Linked DNA regions of Homo sapiens: region 1 is linked to region 2. Evidence: fine-mapped expression QTL. Tissue or cell type: whole blood. Region 2 holds a variant in brackets; the other region holds the start of a gene. Each region is shown on its reference strand, or each on the opposite one.

Region 1 (2,500 bases), not on the chromosome of region 2:
TGACCTTAGATCTTACTGGACACATCTACTACTATATTGGAAACAGGAAAAGAAAGAGCTTTTGACACAGCACCTGGTGGAAGGGGCAAACCTCCATCTCCCCATACATTGCATTGTTGCAGTCTTCAGAGTTTCAAAGGCTTGCCGTTTCTCCCTGAAAAACACGGCCGGTCGGGAGGGATTTCTGGCGCGGCCCACTCACCTCTTTGATCTTTGCCCTTTTCTCGCGGATGGCGGCGTCGGCGGGCTCCCGGCTCTCCACCCCGATTGGGGGCACGAAGTCCACCGGGGGCAGGCCTCTGAACGGCGCCTTGTCACGCAGCTGGTCCTGGGCCACCTTCTTCTTCTCCAGTAGGATGTCTCTTTGGATCTCCTCGGGCAGCTTCTGCAGGGTCTCCTTGGCTTCCCTGAGAGCCCGCTCGTGGTTTTCGCGGATCCTGGCCAAGTTGTCCTCCAGGGCGGCCTCCGGGTCCCCGGGTGCCCCCTCCTCGCGGCGCCGGGCTCGCCCCTCGGCCGCGTCCTCGGCGCGCGCCCCGGGCCCGGGCTTGTGGTCGGCGGCCGGCTGCAAGGCGGGGCTGGAGTGGAACAGGACCCCGCTGAGCAGCTTGGAGGAGTCTGGCAGGAAGAAGATCGCCCCGAAGCAGAGCGTGATGAAGGCGCTGAATACCAGCAGCAGCACGAACTTCTCCGTCAGGCGGAGGGCGGCGGGGCCCGACCCCTTCCTGCCACCGCCGCCGCCGAGCCCCCCGCCCAGGACGCCGCCCGCGGGGCTGCTGAAGAGCGGCAACAGGCCCCCCACGGGCATCGCTCCCGCTGTCCAGTGGTCCGGCGCCGCGCCGCTCAGCAGCCAAACTTCGCCGCCGCTGGGAGTCCGCGGCTGCGGGGCTGGGTCCTGCGTAGCCAGGCCGCCCGACCCCCTCGGCTGGGCTGCGGATCCTCCCTGGGGGAACAACTCCGCGCCGGGTCTTCTCCCCGGGGCGGCTCCTCGGGCACACAGGCACGCGCGACAGACCGCTGGCTGCAGCCCCTGCGGGGAGAGAAACAGTAAAACGTAGTAATTACGGCGATGATAAAGTTTCCAGCGGGTCTCCGCCCTCCGACTCCTGGCGAGCCTCCAGGACCGCTCCCCTTAAGCAGAGTCCTGTCCAGTCCGGGCACCGCCCTCGCAGCCCACTCTCTGGACTTGGGGTGAAGTTATCAGGTCCCGTGGGTAGGGGAGGGGTGTCCCGCGCAGGAAGGGGTCAGGGCAGCGCGCGAGCACCTCGGGGAGGGGCAGCGCACCTCTGGGCAGGAGGGGCGCAGCGTGGGCGGGAGACTCGTCAACTTCGCCCGCTCCCCATCTCCGCGCTGAGACTGCTGCCTCTTTCCTAGGCTGGGCTGAGCGCGCTGTCCCACGGTCCCGCAGCCCCGGCGCGGCTCAGGTGGGCGAGCGCGCCGACCTGCGGGCGAATGGCAGCGAGTAGAGCAGCACGGTACACTCCGCCGCGGCCCCGCGAGCACTAATCTCACTGCCGGTCTTGGGGCGGTGGAAAGCGAGGGAGGCGACGCGGCCGGAGAGTGACGGCGCGGCCGGGCCAATCACGCGCCGCCCAGGGTCCCGCGGGGGCGGGGCCGAGGCGAGGAGGGGGATGCGCGGGGCGGGGAGTTTACGGGAAGCGCAGCCTCGGCGGGGCCCGGCCGGCGGCGGGGAGGTCGCGGGGCCGGGAGGCGCGAGGTAGGCGGGAGCCGCGGTGAGGAGGACGGTCGAACCCGTGGCTGAGGCCCAGCGCCGAGAAGCGGCAGGCAGAGTTCGGGGTCGGGGAGTTTATCCTGCGCTGGCCTCGGCAGGGGTCCCCGGGGTGGTTGATCCTCGACTGGCCCGGGAGGCGCCTGGGTCCGCGCGGGACCTCTCTGCCTCCTCCTCCGACCCGTGCGGGGCGGTCGGGGGCGCTCCCGAGGGGGTCCCGGGAAAGGCGGGGTCTGGCAGGGGGTCCTGGGCGCTGGGTCGTTCAGAAGCACGGCTTTACTCCAGTTACCCTCTTTTTATCCAAGGCCGGGGTTCCCCGGGTGCCTGGTAGCAGTGAAACCCCAAGTCCCTCGGTTAGGGGAGCCGTGACCCTGGGAGCTTTTGAGCTCTCTGGTATAACATCCTTTTACATCCTAAGAGACACAGTTCTGTGCTTGCTTAGGACTTTTTTCGTATGCGCCCTTTCTTCCCCCAAAAAACAAAAAACCGAAAAAACTTGTATGTCTCTCCCGCCCACCCGTACTTTCACTATTCATTTACCTCATAGAAGTTGGTCAAATTTTCCATTCGAAGACGAGTTTTATGCTGCGGTAGCTTCAAGCAATAAGTCGAACACTGTGTTGAAATTAAGTCTTGGATCCGACTACTTCCAGCGAAGTGAGGAGTTGGTCCAATAGAAATTATTTTCCAAAATGTGTTGTAATTCTCCTGTTGCTCCACAAATAAGGGGTTATCAGAGAGGAAAACGTTGACTGACTTCGCATTTCTGAAAGC
Region 2 (3,016 bases):
TCAACAGAGTGAGCTCCGTCTCAAAAAGAAAAAAAGAAAAGAAAGAAAGATGAATTTTAGTAACTGAGCACAGTCACTCATGCCTGTAATCCCAATACTTTAGAAGTCTGAGGCAGGAGGATTGTTTGAGCCCAGGAGTTCAAGACCAACCTGGGCAACACAGTGAGACCTGGTCTCTACAAAAAAGAAAGACAAATTTTTAATTTCCTGGAGCAAGCTAAAGTGGGCAGGAGTGGGAAGAAGCTGGTGGAGATGAACAGTCAGATCAGAGAGAGAAAGTGAGAAAGAGTGGGCACTGGAGACTTCATATTGTAAAGATGGCAGTGCTCCTCAAATTGATCTGCAGATCCAATGCAATCCTTATCCATTTCCCAGGTGACTTCTTTGCAGTATAAGCTGATGCTAAAATTATGCGAGATATCACAGAACCTCTTTTTTTTTTCAGTCTTGAAACAATAATAACAAGTTGGGAGGACTCATACTCGAGAGGCTGAGGTGGGGGAATCGCCTGAGCCCAGAAAGTCGAGGCTACAGTGAGCCATGATCATACTACTGCACTCCAGCCTGGGCAACAGAGTGAGACCCTGTCTCAAAAAAAAAGTCTCCCTCGTGACACACAGTTTACCTATATAACAAACTTGCACATGTACCCCTGAAACTAAAATATAAGTTAAAAAAAACTTTGAAGAAAATACGTGTACATTTTTATGACTTTGGATTAGATGATGATTTCTTAGATACTATACCAAAAGCACAAGCAATCAAAGAAAAAAATAGGTAAATTGGGCATCATCAAAATTAAAAACATTTGTGCTTCAAAGGAAACCATCATGAAAGCAAAAAAAAACCCACAAAAAATATTTGTAAATTATATAGCTGATAGGAGTCTAGTGTCCAGCATATATAAAGAACTTTTACAACCCAATAACAATAAGACAAATAATTCAAAATTGTTTTTTTTTTTTTTGAGACGGAGTCTCGCTCTGTTGCCCAGGCTGGAGTACAGTGGCGCGATCTCAGCTCACCCAAGCTCTGCCTCCCGGGTTCACGCCATTCTCCTGCCTCAGCCTCCCAAGTAGCTGGGACTGCAGGCAGCCGCTACCGTGCCCGGCTAATTTTTTTGTATTTTTAGTAGAGACGGGGTTTCACCATGTTAGCCAGGATGGTCTTGATCTCCTGACCTCGTGATCCGCCCACCTCGGCCTCCCAAAGTGATGGGATTACAGGCGTGAGCCACTGCACCCGGCCCAATAATCCAATTTTTAAATGGGCAAAGGATCTGAGTATACATTTCTCCAAAGAAAATATACAAATGGCCGATAAAAAAATGAAAATCTCAACTCCTTTGGCCATCAGAAAAATGCAAATCAAACCCATATTGAGATACCAGTTCACACTTCCTAGGATGGCTATAATAAAAATAGATAATAAGTGTTGGTGAGAGTGTGGAGAAATTGGAAACTTCATGCACAAGTGGTAGGTAAGTAAAACGGAGCAGCCACTTTAGAAAATAGTCTG[T/G]CCAGGCGTGGTGGTTCACGCCTGTAACCCTAGCACTTTGCAAGGCCGAGGCAGGTGGATCGCTTGAGGCCAGGAGTTCAAGACCAGCTTGGGCAACATGGTGAAACCCTATCCCTACCAAAAAAAAAAAAAAAATTGGCCAGGCATGGTGGCATGCACCTGTAGTTCCAGTAGTTCCAGGTACTCGGGAGGCTGAGGTGGGAGGATTGCTTGAGCAAGAGAGGTGGGGATTGCTGTGAATCGAAATCACACCACTGCACTCCTGCCTAGGTGACAGATCAAGACCCTATCTTAGAAAAAAAGAAAAGAAAAGAAAAGAAAATAGTCTGGCCATTCCTCAAAAGGTTAAACATAGAGGTGCCACATGATTCAGGAGTTCTGTTCCTTATGCATATATCCGAAAGAATTGAGAACATATTATATGTTCACAAAAAAACTTGAACATGAGTGTTAACAGCTTCATTATTTATAATGGCCATAAAGTGGAAACTACCCAAATGTCCATCCAATGCTATACTTTCTGCCTTATAATTGGGATATTTATACCACACAGGTGGGCAAACTCAAAGGCTCACCCTTTGAGTAAATATCTTACTCAAAATATTGAGTAAATATCTTACTCAAAATATTGAGTAAATATCTTACTCAAAATATTGAGTAAATATCTTACTCAAAATATTGAGTAAATATCTTACTCAAAATATTGAGTAAATATCTTACTCAAAATATTGAGTAAATATTTTAGGCTTTGTGGGACAAGAGGCAAAATTGAAGCAATTATATAGTCAGTTATAGAAAAAAATTTACCATTAAAAAATGTAAAAACTGCTTTTAGTTCATGAGCACCGCAAAAACAGGCAACAGATGGCGGGGTATGGTGGCTCATGACTGTAATCCCAGTAATTTGGTGAGGCCAAAGCAGGAGAATCACTTGAACCCAGGAGTTTGAGATCAGACTCTACAAAAAAATACAAAAAAAAATTGTACCTGGGAAGCTGAAGTGGGAGGATCACTTGGGCCTGGGAGATCGAGGCTACAGTGAGCCATATTCATGCTACTGCATTCCAACCTGGGCAACAGAGTGAGACTCTGTCTCAAAAAACAAGCAAACAAGCAAACAAACCAGGAAACAGCCATGATTTGGTTTCGAGCTACAGTTCACTGACCCCTAGTTGAAACTATTTATATTGAAGGTGATTAGTGATACGGTTAAGTTTAAATCTGTTATCTTGCTATTTGCATTTCTTTTTTCCTCATCTGTCTCTTATTTTCACTTTTTTCCCTTGCCCTTTTTTTTGCATTAAATAAATATTTGTTATGATTCCAAGGTATTTTATTTGCTTATTTGCTATTTTTTTATTTTAAAAGTTGCTTTAGGTTTTATAGTATATATCTTTTACCTATCACAGTTTTTCTTAAAATGAGATACGTTTTCATGTATAGTATAAGAGCCTTATAAAGTATACTTCTGGCCTGGCGCAGTGGCTCACACCTGTAA

Evidence for each region. PIP is the estimated chance that this variant, and not a neighbour inherited with it, causes the effect.
Region 1: MAN1A1 starts here. The variant in region 2 is fine-mapped to the expression of MAN1A1 in whole blood (TOPMed, PIP 0.90).

What each region holds. Positions count from the first base shown.
Region 1 is chr6:119,348,261-119,350,760 of GRCh38, forward strand. It overlaps MAN1A1 (mannosidase alpha class 1A member 1), which reads right to left and starts at 1,501. Exons shown (of 13, transcript NM_005907.4): 1 at 1,282-1,501; 2 at 203-1,027. The coding sequence starts at 805. RefSeq lists an enhancer at 1-321 and silencers at 532-651, 712-911, 1,422-2,061.
Region 2 is chr10:96,780,495-96,783,510 of GRCh38, forward strand. No RefSeq gene overlaps it. Among named protein-coding and RNA genes, the nearest start is that of MIR607, 47 kb to the right of the region's middle. The variant T/G (reference allele first, on the strand shown) is at 1,519.